Linked DNA regions of Homo sapiens: region 2 is linked to region 1. Evidence: fine-mapped expression QTL. Tissue or cell type: tibial nerve. Region 1 holds a variant in brackets; the other region holds the start of a gene. All regions are shown on one strand. Distances are between the middles of the regions.

Region 1 (8,169 bases):
CACGCCAAGGGCAGCTGCGTCAGCCCGACTCCACAGTGAGTGGACAGACAGGTGGGTGGGCAGAGGGTGGAGGGCGGAGGGTGGATGGAGGGACAGGCAGGAGGAGGATGGGAGGGCTGCTGTGACTGCTGGAAGGATGGACAGAGTGGTGGATGGAGGGGTGGGACAGCCGTCGACGACAGGGTCCCATGGTTGGATGGTGAGTGGGCAGAGGGATGGACTCGTGGATGGGTGCAGAGAGGATGGGCTGATGGTGGGGGCATGAGAAGGCCCACCAGAGCGACCTGGCTGAGGGGCTCAGGGTGGGGTGCAGGGAAAGGGGCCGTGGCCCTCCCACAACTCTGCCCAGAGCTGGATGCTCTGTGGGGGACACCCCCATGGCAGAGGCCCCAGGTTCACCCTGGTTAATGGGGCTTCTGGGCCGGGGCTATTAACCCTCTGACGCTCGTGAGGCCCAGCCCGGAGTGGGGGCACGCCCCAGCCTGGGGACCTCACCCCCACCCCCCAATTATAATCCACCTCCCTCTAATTGGCAGGGCAGCCAGGGTGGTAATTAACCCTTCCCTCACCGTCCTCCACCCCATGACCCCTGGGCACCCGACTTGGTCACCAGCAAGGCTGAGGCCCCTGGAGGGAGGACCCCACAGTCCAGGCCGCCGGGCCGGCCCCTCCGCTGGGCGACCTTCACTTCCCCCTGGCCAGTGGCTGGAGGCCAGTCCTGGGGAAGGCCCCTCTAAACACCAAGTGGACCATGATGAACTGGCATCTGGGTCCCTGGCATTCTGGGAGGTCCATCTTACTGTCTAACCTTAATCCCTGTTGCTGTAGCCTGGGAAGGAGGAAATGGCGTTCCTAGAACCACTGCCTTCAACTCACAGCGTCTGTGCTCCTGTCACTCACACTCACACGCATGCACACACACTCGCGTGAGTGGGGCCAGGATTCCGCCACAGGTGGGTCTGGCTGGCACCGAGGGGTGCTCCTCCACCTGCTGTTCCCACAGAGAAATCTAGGTCACTCCAGCCGGGCCCTCCCCTCTAATTCCTCAGGGAGCCCCTGGTCCAGACAGGCCTGGCTTTCCTCCAGGACTTCCAGCACCCCCACACCTCTCCCCGCTTTCCCGTTCTGCTCATTCCCGTGAGGTATGGGAGGAGCGTGGGTGTCTGGGTGTCCCTGAGACCCTATGTGAGTCTGTGCTACCGGGGCCAGGCGCGTGCGTGTTCCGGGTTTGCCGACCGAGTGGCCTGGCCCGCCTGCCATGTGCCAACCTTCCCTGTCATCCCCCACAGGGATGGCTCCAGGACTCCAGGCACAGGTGGGGCCTGGCCAGGCTCAGTCTTTGGAGGACCCCGGGGTCCCTGCTTGGACAGGGCAGCCCCACCCATGGCTTCTCCCCACGCCCCTGGGGCGGGGTGTGTGACTCAGTGTGAGGCCTGGTGAGTCAGGAGCCGGCCTCACTGCGGCCTCTGCCCTCACACTATCACGTCCGCCCGCAGCCACCTCTCCCCGCCACCGCCATCCCCGCCGCTGTCCCCACCGCCTACCTCTGGCAGTCTCGGCCTCAGGCTCGGGCTCAGCGGCCCCGTTGTGCCGCGGCTGCTGTCCCAGCTGCAAGAGGCGGGCGCGGACCTGCTCCTGGACGCGGGCTGCCCGCAGCCGCTCGGCCTCCGGCCCCTCGGCGCCCCGGCGGTCCAGCTGCAGGTCAGAGGGCAGCGCCAGGGAGCACACGCCGGCCTCAGGCTGCAGGGCCGACAGCAGGAAGTTACCGTCCTGCATGGCGGCAGGTCCACCGGGCCTGGGCCTGGCGGCCGCCTCCAAACCCAACTATCTTCACGTCCTGTCCCTCGAGGCCCTCTCCCTGAAGTCCCCGCCCAGCCAGCCTCACCCAGAGCCGCCTGAAGACAGACGCCTGCCCAGCCCTGAGCGCAGCTGGGGGCGGGGACACCTGGCCAGGTGGGAGGGAGGGGCCGCCGCCTGCTTAAGGTGGAATTTGGGCGGAAGAACAGGCCCTGCATGGCCCCAGGTCCCAGCCTGGCCTCCCGCCTCCTTTTCTCCCATCCCACAACAGGGCCACGGGGACCTGGGTCCTTCTTGTTCTCAGCCTGTAAAGGCCAGACCGGGCCCTTTGTCGTGGGGCTGGGACAGAGGGGCCCTCTGTGTCCTGAGTGTCAGGGAAGGGCAGGGGGCCTGCGGGGGGCCTATGTCCTGCCACCCCCAGCATGAAGGGGAGGGTGCCCCAGTCCCTGGGGGTCTAGGGCCCTAGGTAGCTCCAAGAATCAGCCAGCCTCCATGGTAGCCCAGCCTTCCTGGTGAGGTGGGGATGAGGCCTAGGAAGGGTTGGCAGGAGACACTGTCGGGAGTCAGGGGTCAGTGCCAGGGATCAGGACAAAGGCTGGAGGGACAGAGCTTTAGGGTCCAACGGGACTCCATGGAGGCCCTGGCCCTGGTCCTTGGAATCCAGCGAGCCCCCTCCGCACCAGGAAGCATGTGGATGGACCGGCCCTCCCCCGAAGCCTGCAGACCCTGGAACTCACCCCCAGGACCCCCTCACCCCCTACAGAGGCCTCCAAAACCCTCTCTGGCTTCTGGGACCCTGGCACCACTGCTCCTGCACCCCAGGCCCTGGGGTGGGAGGCCGTTCCCAGCACATGAGTCAGGGTGCAGGGGGGCGGGGCCGCCCCAGGGGGTTGACTCAGAGGGCCTGCACTCCTGTCAGCGCATGTCAGGCTGGGGCAGGAGCGGGTGTGCAGGGAAGAACCAGGGGTCTGGAAGAGCAGAGGCCTGGATGGAGAGGGAGCGAGGGTGGGGGGCCCCTGGTGGGGGTGGGGTAGTGGGGGGCCCCTGGTGGGGGGGCCCTGGACCAAGCAGGGCTTGTGCCCAGAAGGTCTCCTTCTAGCACCACAGCCAGCAAATGGGCTCTGAGGCCCTCTAGCCTCTGGGACAAGCCCCTGGTAGATGGGGGTGGGGATAAGCCTAGGAGGGCTGGGGGTGGGAGCTGAACATCTATGACAACCTCTGGGCTTCTCTCACGAGCTCATCGGACAGCCTCTGCTTCTCCCTGGACCCTGGACCCTGGCTCTGGGCTCTCCTCCAGGGCAGACCCTTGCCCCCTAGCTCCGTCCCTGGAAGATTTTTGCCTTAATGGGGCTGGGGCAGGGGTCTGGCGTGAGGGCCGGGTCAGGGTTAGGAGGCAGCATTAAGGGTGAGGTCAGTTCTGAGGGGAGGAAGCTGGAGAGTAGGAGTCGGAGGTCAGCGTGGGGGGTTAAAGGGGGAGGGGAAGGTCCACTGAAAGGATGGGTGAGGCCCGGGCTGGGGCCACCAGGTGGGGTCGGGGTGGTGGGGAAGGGGTGGGAGACCTACCCGGCTCGTGGTCCGGATCCCGCCAGCCTCCCAGCTCATCCCAGAGGCCACTGCTGACGGCCGAGGTGTCCAGGACTCCATCCCTGGCCCGGCGCGTGCGGGGCAGCCTCTGCGGCGGGGACAGGACTGTGGGGGCCTCGGAGGGCGGGGTGGGAACGCCCAGCTCATCGGACTGGCTGATTCCCTGGGAGACAGGTTTCGTGTGGAAAAATCCTGGGAGACAAGTTTGTGCGGCGCAGAGCGGGCCTGGAGGTATGTGCCTGGCATGGGCTGGGTCCCGCCCTGCACCCAGGTCCACCCCAGGCCCACCTGGGGCCCTGCAGGGGCCAGGCTGGGCGGCATGAGGGGGAAGCCAGCCTGGAGGGCCTCTGCAGCCCAGTCAGGCCGAAGGGCTCACAAGAGGACTCAGTGAAGGGGCTTCCGTGCGGCTGGAGCTATGATGGGAACGCCGGTACCCCGCGGCCTGCAGGGCCCCCAGGGCCGACTCTGCCCACCTTCCCTCCTCCCCTTGGCAGAGAGGGCTGTGGGTGCCCCCCCCCAGAGCTGCGGCGCCTCCCTGAGGATGCGTGGTGCCCGCCAGGCACAGTTTTGGCAAAGCCAGGAATCTGGGGTGCACCTTCCCTCACTGCGGCCGGGCCAGACGGATGGCGATGCCTGCTAGGCCACCGCTGCAGCTTCCAGCTCCAGGCTCGGCGGAGTCTCATCTGATCCCTGTGACCAGCCCTGAGGGTCGCACTCTCCCTGGAGCCAGCTCCTGACACAGGAGCCCTGGAGGGGGGCTTGACGGTAGGCTTCCTGGAGGAAGCGGTTGTCTGTGGGGCCCGGAATCTGCACGGAGCCTCGGGCCGCTTGGGTGCACAATCAGGTTGAGAGCCTGGAACCTGAGGGCCTCGAAGGGTGAGTGAGCGCTGCTCTTAGATGGGTCCTGGGTGGGGTGTGGCCTGTCAGTCACCTCCCAAGAGGCGGTGGGAGAGGGCGCAGGAGGGCTTCGGGGCATGGTGGGCTCAGCGTGGGGGGCACGGGAGGCGCTCACAGAGAAGGTCGGCTGGGCCCAGGTCGTGGGCAGAGCTGCCAGGTGCGTGCCCGGAGTTGTGGGAGGGCACAGAAGACAAACCTCCAGGGCAGAGCCTGCGTGGGTGGAGGGGGTTGGGGTGGTCGTCTTAAGGAGCAGAAGGGGGAGGATCTGGGGAGAAAGGTGTGAGGACGTTGGAAGCAAAATATAGTCAAAGCCGAATTCAGGAGTGAGCCGGTGCACAGA[G/C]AGGCTTGGGAGGCTGCCTCAGGTCCCACCGCCTGCAGGGGCGGGGTTCGGAGTGCATTAGGGGAGCCCCTTGGTGGTTGATGGACCCGGCGTGGGGGCACAGCTCACCCAGAGGCAAGCGTCCTGGCGCTTCCTGTTGGCGCCCACGCTTGCAAACCTTCTGACTTGGGCTCCAGCCAAGTCCAGCCCCTCCACGGAGCCTGCCCGGCTGCCCATGGGCACCACCCCTCACCTTGTGGAGTGTGGCCCCTGCCCCGCGCCTGTGGCTGGGGCAGCTCTGAGGTCTCTGGCCTTGGTCCTTGGCATGGAAAGTAGCTGAGGGGTATGGCCCCTGTAGGCTCTTGGGGGGGACACCTTTCATCTGCACACACCCCGTCCACTGCCGGCCTGTTGGTCAGTCTGTCCATCTGTCCGTCCACTACTTGTTCGTTCATCAGACGAGTCCCGGGCTCTTGCTATGCCCCCGGCGCTCCTCTGGGGAAGGGGGCGTCTGTCTGAGGCAGGCGGGGCATCTCCCGGGGGTTCTCCTGGGGTCTGGCCTCAGGACCCCGGCGCTCCTCTGGGGAAGGGGGCGTCTGTCTGAGGCAGGCGGGGCATCTCCCGGGGGTTCTCCTGGGGTCTGGCCTCAGGACCCCGGCGCTCCTCTGGGGAAGGGGGCGTCTGTCTGAGGCAGGCGGGGCATCTCCCGGGGGTTCTCCTGGGGTCTGGCCTCAGGACCCCGGCGCTCCTCTGGGGAAGGGGGCGTCTGTCTGAGGCAGGCGGGGCATCTCCCGGGGGTTCTCCTGGGGTCTGGCCTCAGGACCCCGGCGCTCCTCTGGGGAAGGGGGCGTCTGTCTGAGGCAGGCGGGGCATCTCCCGGGGGTTCTCCTGGGGTCTGGCCTCAGGACCCCGGCGCTCCTCTGGGGAAGGGGGCGTCTGTCTGAGGCAGGCGGGGCATCTCCCGGGGGTTCTCCTGGGGTCTGGCCTCAGGACGGTGTGTGGACCCATTCAGTTAGCCCCAAGTGTTCCTCACCAAATTGCAGCTGCTAACAGGTGGCGGCCGCTCCTGTTGCTTTCCTGTTATAAACAGGTGGCGCTGTGGGGCCAGGTCCTCCTCAAACAAGGCGGAGGAGGGAAGTCCTGGGAATCGGGGGCCTGGCCTAAGAAGGTGCCTTCTGAAAGGAAAAAAGCTAACCCCTCCATGGAGAGGTCCCTGTATTCACAAGACTGTGTTGATTCCTGACATGGTGGAGGAAGGAGGCCTGAGATGCCACTCACAGTTGTGCCAAGAGATGGGGAGGGGGGCCCAGATTGGAGAGGAGAACTCTGGAGTCCAGGACGAGGTCCATCCTCCTTCCCTTGACCCCTACAATCCCTGGGGTTCCTGGATGGCAATGGTGGTCTGGACGACTGTAGCTGGGGAGAGGAGGCTGGGGACCCATCAGTCCTGCTGTACCATTTGGGAGACTGGCCCGAGGTCCGGCAACCCACGTCTCCAGGGATGGTCTGTCCTCCAGCGGTCCCCTGTGGGCGGAGGATGACCCAGGTGCCCAGGCAAGAGACTGAAGGCACAAACTGTTTCAGTATAATAAAGAAAATAGAATAAGAATAGTCATAATACAAATTAGATATAGAGATGCTCATGGACAATTATCAATCATTATTATAAACATTATTAGTCATTAGCTTTTAATATTACTCTTTGTTCCATTACTATATAACCTAGGAATAAGCGGTGGGTATAGGGTCAGGTGCTGAAGGGACGTTGTGAGAAGTGACCTAGAAGGCAAGAGGTGAGCCCTCTGTCACGCCAACATAAGGGCCGCTTGAGGGCTCCTTGGTCAAGCGGTAACGCGAGTGCCTGGGAAGGCACCCGTTCCTTAGCCGACCGCGAAAGGGAGTCTCCTTTCCTTGGAGAGGTCGGGGAACACTCTGCTCCACCAGCTTCTTGTGGGAGGCTGGATATTCTCCAGGCCTGGCCCGCAGTCATCCGGAGGCCTAACCCCCTCCCTGTGGTGCTTGAATGATCACACTCCTTGTCCACTTTCATGCTCCTCCCGTACTCCTGGTTCCTCTTTGAAGTTCGTAGTAGATAGCGGTAGAAGAAATAGTGAAAGTCTTAAAGTCTTTGATCGTTCTTATAACTGCATAGAAGACAACACTGATGTATGCTGCCTTTCCTCTCTACTTCGGCTACCTAAGAGGGAAGGGTCACCGTAAGGTGACTTGCTTCACCTTATCACTTAGAAGATTCACCCTCCTTATCCTGCCCCCTTGTCTTGTATGCAATAAATATCAGCGCGCCCAGCCGTTCAGGGCACTACTGGTCTCCGCGTCTTGATGGTAGTGGTCCCCCAGGCCCAGCTGCTTTCTCTTTATCTCTTTGTCTTGTGCCTTTATTTATTACAATCTCTGGTCTCCGCACATGGGGAGAACACCCACTAAGCCCCGTAGGGCTGGACCCTACAGTCCCCAAGGCAAACTGGACAGGGTCAAGGTGGCCTCCCTGCACTGTCTGGAAAGCCCCTCCTGAAGGACCCTCCTCCCTGCACTGTCTGGAAAGCCCCTCCTGAAGGACCCTCCTCCCAGGACTGTCTGGAAAGCCTCCTGAAGGACCCTCCTCCCTGCACTGTGTGGAAACCCTCCTGAAGGACCCTCCTCCCTGCACTGTGTGGAAACCCTCCTGAAGGACCCTCCTCCCTGCACTGTGTGGAAACCCTCATGAAGGACCCTCCTCCCTGCACTGTCTGGAAACCCTCCTGTGGGGCCCTAGCCCAACACATTTGCAGCAGTCACAGGTGTATCTAGGGATCCTGGGGTCCATGAGCCCACAGGGCAGCTGTTAAGAGCCTTTGCCTTCTTCCTATATCTCCTCTCTCTTTTCTGGACTTCCTCCCGGTTCCCACTGGAAAAAACTGAGGTGGCCCCTCCCAGGATGCCCCCAAAGTACCATCTGGTCCCACAGCCCATTCCCGCATCCTCCTTCTGACATCAGGGGCCGCCTGTGCAATGAACTCATCTCCTCATCCCCTAGGACCAGCCGTTCATTGACTGAGTCAGGAGACAGAGAGGCACACTTCACCAAGGCCCCTGCCATCCCCCAGGAAGGCAGTGGGGCCAATCCCTGCTCTACCATGGACAGCCTGGTGCAATCAAGAGGCCCAGCCCCTTTCTCTCATAAGCCCTCCAGCCAAGTGCAATGAGAAGCCCAGTCCCATTCCCTCACAAGCCCTCCAGTATCACATCTGAAAGTGTTTCATCCTCCATTCTCCCATTTTATCACTGGGGTCCCATTTAGGGTCCTCCAATGGTACTGCTATTCATCCAATTGGATAAAGCTTCTCTTCTTCCCTGGCCCTATATAAGATATACAGCTCATCCCCCAAATTCTCTGCCGCTTGCGGGGTGGCCTGCTTTTCAGCAGTCAGGGTTTGATTCAGAAGTAACATGATATCCTTCCAGGAGAGCTCAAATACTTGGGTTAAGTTCTGGAAAGCCTCCATGTATCTGTCAGGGCCATCTGAAAACTTGCCAAGATCCCCCTTAATTTGACTCAGAATGGCCTAAAATGA
Region 2 (8,169 bases), 23 kb after region 1:
TGACTGAGCTGCAGGAGGCCCGGGACGACACCAGGGCTGGGGTGGGGGTACCTTGCCCACAAAGGCCACAAGCTGGGCAGCAGCAGGGCTCTCGTCCAGACTCAGCCAGAACTCCGAGTTGTCGTCTGAGGCCACAGAAAACTGGACGTCTCCTAGTCCACAAGACTAGGCTCAGGGGGGTGGAGCCTCACGGCACCCCTCCCCCGGGGCACCCTCACCCCCGTACCGTCCCTCGCCGGGTGGATGAAACCAAAAATACGGAGTCCATAGTTCTTCCACTTGGGGGACACGGCCAACTTCTTCACGGTGGTGCGCGTCTGGGGGGGCAGTGACTGTTGCTGTCGAAGCCCCCTGCGTGCCCTGCCCACCCGGCACCCCCCAACCCCGGCACTCACATGAGGGAACAGCGGGAAGTGCAGGTTCCTCCTCAGGTGGCCCACGGCGCCCCCACACCAGTCCTCAAACACGTGCAGGTTCACCTGCCCCTTGTACTGGGGATGGGGGGGCCTTACCTTCTGCACGGCCCGCCGCCCCCCCGCCCCAGCCCCCGCCCTGCCTCCCAGCCCATTACAGGCCGAGCCAGCTCACCTCCTCCCGCCATGGGGGTGTCTGATGGGTGAAGTTCAGTGGCAGCCTCCCAGCCCCCCCAGGAAACAGCATGTCTAGGTCCCGACCTTCGGGCTGCAGGAGAGAAAAGGCAACAGGGTCAGGGTTGGAAGGGCAGGGAGGAGGTCACACACACCAAGACAAACCTTCACAAAGACCCCTTCCAACATGTATCCACACAGCCCTAAATGCCCGTGAGCCCCAGCCATGCAAACCCTGACCTGTGGCACCTGGCACATACACTCAGACACCCTGGTCACTCTAGCCCAAGCAGATGCTTGGCCACCCCACACACTGACCGGCCGGCACATTCATGCACCTGCTGCAGCCCCCAGACACAGAGCTCCAGACAGGATGGCTGGTGCTGGAGCTCACACAGACAAGCTGTGCCGTGCCCCACATGTCCTGTGTCTCATGCCCCCTGCTGCGTCCTCCAGAATGGACAGGTTCTCAAGACACCAACACACAAGTGGCTTCGGGGTCTCGTCTCCGTGCACACGTGTTCTCCCCAGGGCTCTGCTCACCGCTTGCTCCTCTTCACGGCTCTCACTGGAGTCCTCAGCCCTCTGTGTGGATGGCGCAGCGTGGACCCCCCGGCCGTCGGTCTCACTGGTCAGCTTCTCACCATCTGCAGGTGGCACATGAGGCCTGTCTCGGGCCCAGGCTCTCTCCAAGGCCATTCTGCCTGCTGCTGGGTTCAGCTGGGCCAGGGACCCACATGGCCAGAGCAGGGCAGGCAGGCTGTGGTGTCTCTCACTAAAGCCTCTCCTTCTCATCTGCTTCCTCTGCCACCAGATGCCCCTCCCCCCAGCAAGGCAACTTCTTCTACACCCCACCTCTGGTGGGGCAGCCCAGGCTGAGCCTTCCAGCAGGCTCTTCCCAACCTCCAGCAGGTGTGAGGGAGGAAAGCCGGGTGGGCCAGCTGGCGTGTGTAGGCACCCACATGCACCTCCATCTGGCCATTCTTGTTGAGTGGCTCTGCCTCCAGGAAGACCCCAGGACTGCCCTGTGCCCTCAGCACTTTCTCTGTGTGCTGGAGTGTTCCACGTCTGCCTCCCTTACCAGAACTGAGAACTCAGGGTTAGTGCCAGGGACTGTAGTCTCTCCTGAAGGATTTGAGCTCTCAAAGTCTGGACTGAGGAACAGGCATGGATGCTGACGCCCAGGCATGGCCCTGGAGCAGAGGGTGGCCCTGGATTGAGTGTCCTTGGGTAGGAGGACCAGGAGGGGCAGAATTGGGGTGAAGAGAAGCATCCCTACAGATGCTCAGATCCCAGGGCGTGGAACCCCCTGGGGCTGCAGTGGGGATGTCTAGGTCCTCAGCTTAGGGAGGTCCAGGAAGTGGAGAGGGCTGGGGTGCAGAGCTGGCCTGCCCAGGCTTGTGGGGAGGCAGTAGAGATGTCCACAGGCAGATCTGGGAAGGGTCCCCCAGGGCTCCCCTGACTTGGGCCCCAGGTCCCCCGACAGAACAGTCTGCTCACTCGCCCTCTCCCTGGGCAGCTGTTGGGCTCCTCTGGTCCTGGCCCTAGCCTCAGAGGTAGCAAGTGTACAGGTGCCCTGGGGCGGAGCTGGCTTAGCCTCAAGGGGTCCTTGGAAGAGGGGTCCCTATGCCTCCGCCCCCTCCTGGTTGGGCTTAGACCCCTGCGCTGCTCAGAAAACCACAGAGGAGCCTGCAGAGGGGGCTGGTTTTGTTCTGTGTCACTGGGCCAGCTGTGGATCCTGCCCTGTCTGCTGATAGCTGGGGTGGGGCTTTTTAGGGATTCAGCAGTATCGGGGGTCTCTTGAGGGTGTGGAAGCTGTGAGGTATGTGGGTTGGGACAAGCCCCAGACCCTTGGCCTGTGTGGGTCCAGGCGTCCCGGTACAGGAAGAGAACACAGGGGCTTTGGCAGGTGGAGTGGCCCAGGAGTCCCCAGCCAGTATCATTGTTCTGCCCCCTCAGGACACCTGGCTCCCTGGAAAAGGCTCAGAGGCAGCCAGCTGGGGTCTCTCCTGGTCTGGGCATGGCACTAACCTCCCTCCTCCAGAGGGGGCATTCTGCCCCACCTTCTCCCCCAACCCCACCGCCAGGCTTTCATCTGCGCCTTCCTGTCTGGAATGCTCTTTCCCCCAAAGGTGTATGTCAAAGATCACCATCTCCAGGAGGCCCTACCCCGGCTGGCTCACCGTGACCCCATCTGCTTTGTTTGTGGGTTGGGGTTGGGAGAGTTTACGCCAGGCTCCCCAAGCTGGGCCCCATCCCTACGCATGGACCCCCACAACACTGGCACAGTTCACCGAAGGCGCCCCCGCCGGGAAGCGTCCCAGCTGCACCGGCCACTTCAGCAAGCCCCGGCCCGGGTCCCCAGCACACAGGGAAACTGAGGCCCTGCTAAGCGGGCAGGGGGTGGAGGCGAGGCCTGAGAAGGCCTCTTGGAAGCCTCAGCAGGGTCTAGGGGCAGAGACTTCCCCAGGAGCCCACCGTCAGCCCCTCACTACCGGATCCAAGCCAGATCCCAGAGTCAGGGACCCTCTCTGGGAGGGTCGCGCGCGTCACTGCCGACGTCATCGAGCGTCCGGGCCGAGCCGAACCGCGCCCCCTCCCCCCAAATCGCAGAGCGGAGAACAGCGGGCGGGGTCTCCGGGAGGGTCGGGCCCAGCCGAGACCTCTGTGCGGTGGGAGGCCCGGCCCGCGCCCCGGGGCCCCCGCCGCCCGCGCCGCCCGCGCCCCCCGCGCCGCCCGCGCCCCCCGCGCCCCCCGCGCCGCCCCCGCCCCCCGCGCCCCCCGCGCCCCCCGCGCCGTACCTCGCCCGTAGCCCAGGCGCTGGCGCAGCGCGCGTCCCTGGCGCACCAGGCCCAGGTGCACGTAGGTGAGCCACGCGGCGCAGCTCAGCAGCAGCAGCAGCAGCAGCAGCTTCATCTGCTTACGGATCTTCTTCACCGGGAGCCGCGGCATCGCGGCCGCCGCGCCCGCCCCAGGCCGCGCTCAGCGGCGCCGCTGCAGCCCCCGGCCCCCGCCCGCCCCGCGCCGCATCCCCGGCCCGCCCCGCCGCGCTCAGCGCCCGCGGCCCCGCATGGTCCTTTGTCCGCCGTGCGCGGCCACCGGGTGCGGCCGCGACCCCCCCAGGCCGCCCTCGGCCGCGGGCCCGGGGTGGGCGGCGGGGGCGGCTCCTCGCGGTGCCCCCCGCCCGGCCGCTCCCGGCTCCGCGCTCCTGGGGCGGCGGCGGGACCGAACAGCATCCACGGCTGCCACCGCGGATCGGGCCCCGGCCGCGCGCGCGGAACCAATCGGACCGAGCCAGGCCGCGGGGAGCCAATGGCGGCGCGCGGGGAGGGGTGCGGGGCGCGGGAAGGCGGGGCGGGGCGCGGGGTGCGGGGCGGAGGAGGCGGGGCGAGGGGAGGCGGGGCGGGGCGGGGGGTGCGGAGGGTGCGGGGCGGGGGGTGAGGGGTGCGGGACGGACAGGGATGCGGGGCGCGGGGCGCGCGTCCACCTGGGCCACGGAGCGCGGGGGCGCGGCACACAGACGCGGGGCTGGGAAGCGCTGGGGCTCGGGGACCGTGGGGGGCGGCGGGGGATGGGCACAGCCTGACTGTGGGGCGGGGCGGCCTCCCGAGAACAGTGACCCGAAGGACTGCAGGCGGACAACACGGAGGAGGGAGGGGAGGGACCCGGGGTCCTGGGGGGCGGGGAATGGGGGCGGGCGAGAGAGGCCGGGGGGCGGGGGGGCCCAAGCACCGGCTTCAGCCCAGGGGTGGGAGTCGTTGCGGGATCTCAGCCTGCAGGGCTGGGGCCGCAGGGGGCCGAGCTGTCTGGGCGGCAGGAGGGGCCTCAGCTGGTGGCCCCCGCCCCACCGAGCGCGGCCTGAGGCAGGTGACAGTGTCGTGCCTCTCACCGGGACCTTGTCCCACTTCGTGCCCTTTCTCACCTGGTCTGCACCAACCCCTGCCAGTCCCTCTGTCCCCCCAGTACTTCCCTTGTCCAGCTGCCAGCGTGACCCTACTCTTCTCCCTCTGTCTGCTCAGCTGTCTCTGGGTGTGTAGCAAACCGCCCAGCTTCAGTGCTGTCCAACAGCAGCGTTCCTGTGTTCCTGTGTCCTGTGGGTCAGGAACTCAGGGCACTCGGGGACAGCTCCTCTCTGCTCCTCGAGGTGCTGGCCTCCGGTGGGAAGACGTGAGTGGTGGGGCCGGCTCCGCGGGACAGGCTGGAGCCATCCAGAGACTTCTGCCCCAAGCCAGTGCACCCTCGGCAGGAATGGCTGGGCTCACCCCGGGTGGTTGGCCAGAGCGCCTGCAGGCTCAGCTGCCAGGGGCAGCCTCCCGGTCCAGCACACAGAGTGAAGCATCTTGGAGTCACCCCTCAGGTTTGCCACATGCCGCACGGCCACCCAAGTTCGTGGGTTGTGGGGACGTGGACCCCACCTCACAATGGAAGATTGCCCAGAAGTTGCCTTCTTAAGACCTCAACTCCTTCCCTCCTTCCCCTCCATCCTCCTCCCCTAACTTCTGAGCACAGAAGCAAGCTGGTTACATCCTGCTGTTCATACCGGCCCTTAAACAACACCCGGTCTCTCAAACCTTCCCCCACCCCATCAGCTCCTCATCTCCTGCCTCCTGCAGTCCACTTTTCATATTTCTGTTATCTGCATATTCATTAAAATATAGTGCCCCACCCCTTTTTGAGACAGGGTCTCACTGTGTCTCTGAGGCTAGAGTGCAGTGGTGCAATCTCAGCTCACAGCAGCCTTGACCTCCTGGGCTCAAGCGATCCTCCCACTTCAGGTTCTTGAGGAGCTGGGACTACAGGCATGCATCACCATGCCGGACTAATTTTTTGTATTTTTTTTTTTAACAGATTCAGGGTCTCACCATGTGTCCCGGGCTGGCGTTGAACTCCTGGGCTCAAGTGATCCTCCCGCCTTGGCCTCCCAAAGTGCTGGGATTCCAGGCGTGAGCCACTGTGCCCGGCCAGTGGTGCTCTTTTATGTGTCTCATTCTGTTTCTCCAAGTCCCATATTTTCTATGTGCATCTGTCTGGCTGTGCGTCTAATGCTTTCCCTCTTTCCACTGCATGGCACCCCATCCTAGGCACATTCATCCAGCCAGTGGACGCTACCTAGTATTCTAGTGTCCTGACGAGCCAGGGACTTAGGGGACACAGCAGTGAGCAAGACAGAAAAGGGCCCTCCTTTCATGGAGTTTACATGTTACTAGGCAGGGACAGACCAGTGAACGCATAGTCGCTTTGCTGGTGGTGAGTGACGTGAAGGAGATGAGCTGGGTGATGGAGGGAGGCCGGCTCCCGCTCCAGGGTCGCTCTCTGGGGAGGCAACGGCTGGCCTGACCCGTAAACAGGTTCTTAGAAGGCAAGTGTTGGCAATGTCGGGAGAGACGTGTTTGGGACACTTCATGGGTCCACAGTCAGAGGGTGTCCCCTGTGGATCCAAAGCATAGTAGGTACAATTGAGGGGCGAGCTGGGATCTGCCGGACGCAGATGCTCCATATGCTACCACATCCGTCTCGGCCCCTTCTGGAGAAGAACGGCCACCGCCTCACTTCGGTGTGACCCAGCCACAGAGGAGAAGGTTCTGGGAAATGGGTCTCCAGCTTAGAATAAGAGAACAACCTGGCCGGGCGCGGTGGCTCACGCCTGTAATCCCAGCACTTTGGGAGGCCGAGGCGGGCGGATCACGAGGTCAGGAGATCGAGACCATCCTGGCTAACACGGTGAAACCCTGTCTGTACTGAAAATACAAAAAATTAGCCGGGCGTGGCGGCGGGCGCCTGTAGTCCCAGCTACTCGGAGGCTGAGGCAGGAGAATGGCGTGAACCCGGGAGGCGGAGCTTGCAGTGAGCCGAGATCGCGCCACTGCACTCCAGCCTGGGTGACAGAGCGAGACTCGGTCTCAAAAAAAAAAAAGAGAGAACAACCTGGCAGGTTCCTCCTCTTGACAACTCAGCACAGACGCACACTTCTTTTAAAAAACACATTTAACTTCCAAATAAAGCAAAAAACAAAGTCATGCTTCTACGTAACATGATGCAAATATTCCAACCAGAAGGGACTGAACAAAAGGTTCGTGTCATGTTATCCACATTTGAGAAGACGATCCTCGTTCTTCTAGTTTCTCTAAGAGCGTTTAACACTTGACACTGCAAAGTGCATGTTGGGGGTTGGATGACACAAATACTGAGATGAAATGTAAAGTTAACTGTTGTTAACGCATTTTATGCAGCTAGGAGGGCAATGGAAGAGGAAAAAAGCAGGAAGAACGGATAATGTCAGTACAAGTGTGACTTGTGTGAGGATAAGAAGTACTCACTTCTACGGTCACCAGGTCGTGGCTGGTACAGTCTTTATGGCCACGCTCTTCCGTCACTCCTGCGTGGTCCCTTTGCCCTCTGCAAGCACCTCTGCTGGTCGTGGTTCACTGTCTGGTGGGGTGACCCAAACGTTCCTTCCCAAAAGGCCTATGCTGTTAGCAGTTTTGCCTTATGGGGTGGTTCTGGTTTTCCAGTGGTGTTTTCTGCAAGGCTTAGAGGAGCTACGTGATATTACAGACGATCTCCTGCCTCCCAAATTTCTCCCCCTTAGCCCCATTCTGTGATCAGGTTCCAAGTTCCCCTTGTTGGGCTCAGTCAGCCGGACCAGCACAGGGACCCTCTTCTTTGTCGACCCCCTGGTGTGAGGAACCGGCGTCCAGGTGGGCAGTCTCAGCTTCCTGCGTAACGTGTCCCCTGGTGGAAACACTCCAGGGCTTTCCCAGGACCGAGGGGATTCCTAGGACATGGAACTTTCCGTTTTAAACCTGGGAAAGTCGGCTGGGCGCGGTGGCTCACGCCTGTAATCTCAGCACTTTGGGACGCTGAGGCAGGTGGATTACCTGAGGTTGGAAGTTCGAGACCAGCCTAACCAACATGGAGAAACCCCGTCTCTACTAAAAATAAAAAATTAGCTGGGCATGGTGGTGCATGCCTGCAATCCCAGCTACTAGGAAGGCTGAGGCAGGAGAATTGCTTGAACCCAGGAGGCGGAGGTTGTGGTGAGCCGAGATCGTGCCATTGCACTCCAGCCTGGGCAACAAGAGCAAAACTGAGCCTCAAAAAAATAAAAAATAAAAAAATGAAAATAAGACCGGCAAAGTCTTAAGCAAACTGGGATGAGTTGGTCCCTGGGAATCTGAGGCCTCTAGACCAACAGCGTGCAACACTGCAGGGGGCAAAACTTTCACTTGTGGCTCACTGGGGATTAACGACAATGGGAAGAAGTTGGGGTTTCCACTCCTCCACGCCTGGACCAGTGAGCCCCGGCTTTGGGAAAAGCCAGAGATTAAGTGCTGATTCAGTGGATCCGCTGCATCCAGAGGACCCCAGATCCACAGCATTGTCACTCAGCTGGTGCCAAAACTGAGCCTCCCAAAGGCCATTCCATCAGGAACACGGCGAGATCTGTGGGTTCCAGGAGCACCGGCCGGTTGCTGTCCCCAGGACAATGGCGATGCCGCCATGAGGAGCACCCCGTGGGTGGACGAGGAGCTCTGAATGTGTGGGGTGGTGGTTTGGGCAGAGGCATTGAGGGCACTGACCA

The links. PIP is the estimated chance that this variant, and not a neighbour inherited with it, causes the effect.
Region 2: B4GALNT4 starts here. The variant in region 1 is fine-mapped to the expression of B4GALNT4 in tibial nerve (GTEx, PIP above 0.99). The same link has a PIP of 0.9 or more in atrial appendage.

Annotation. Positions count from the first base shown.
Region 1 is chr11:387,900-396,068 of GRCh38, reverse strand. PKP3 (plakophilin 3) reads right to left here and starts at 1,860. Exons shown (of 13, transcript NM_007183.4): 1 at 1,545-1,860. The coding sequence starts at 1,776. RefSeq lists an enhancer at 1,645-2,407. The variant G/C (reference allele first, on the strand shown) is at 4,619.
Region 2 is chr11:365,174-373,342 of GRCh38, reverse strand. It overlaps B4GALNT4 (beta-1,4-N-acetyl-galactosaminyltransferase 4), which reads right to left and starts at 3,844. Exons shown (of 20, transcript NM_178537.5): 1 at 3,389-3,844; 2 at 1,131-1,234; 3 at 589-681; 4 at 396-491; 5 at 227-317; 6 at 52-152. The coding sequence starts at 3,539. RefSeq lists an enhancer at 4,773-5,311.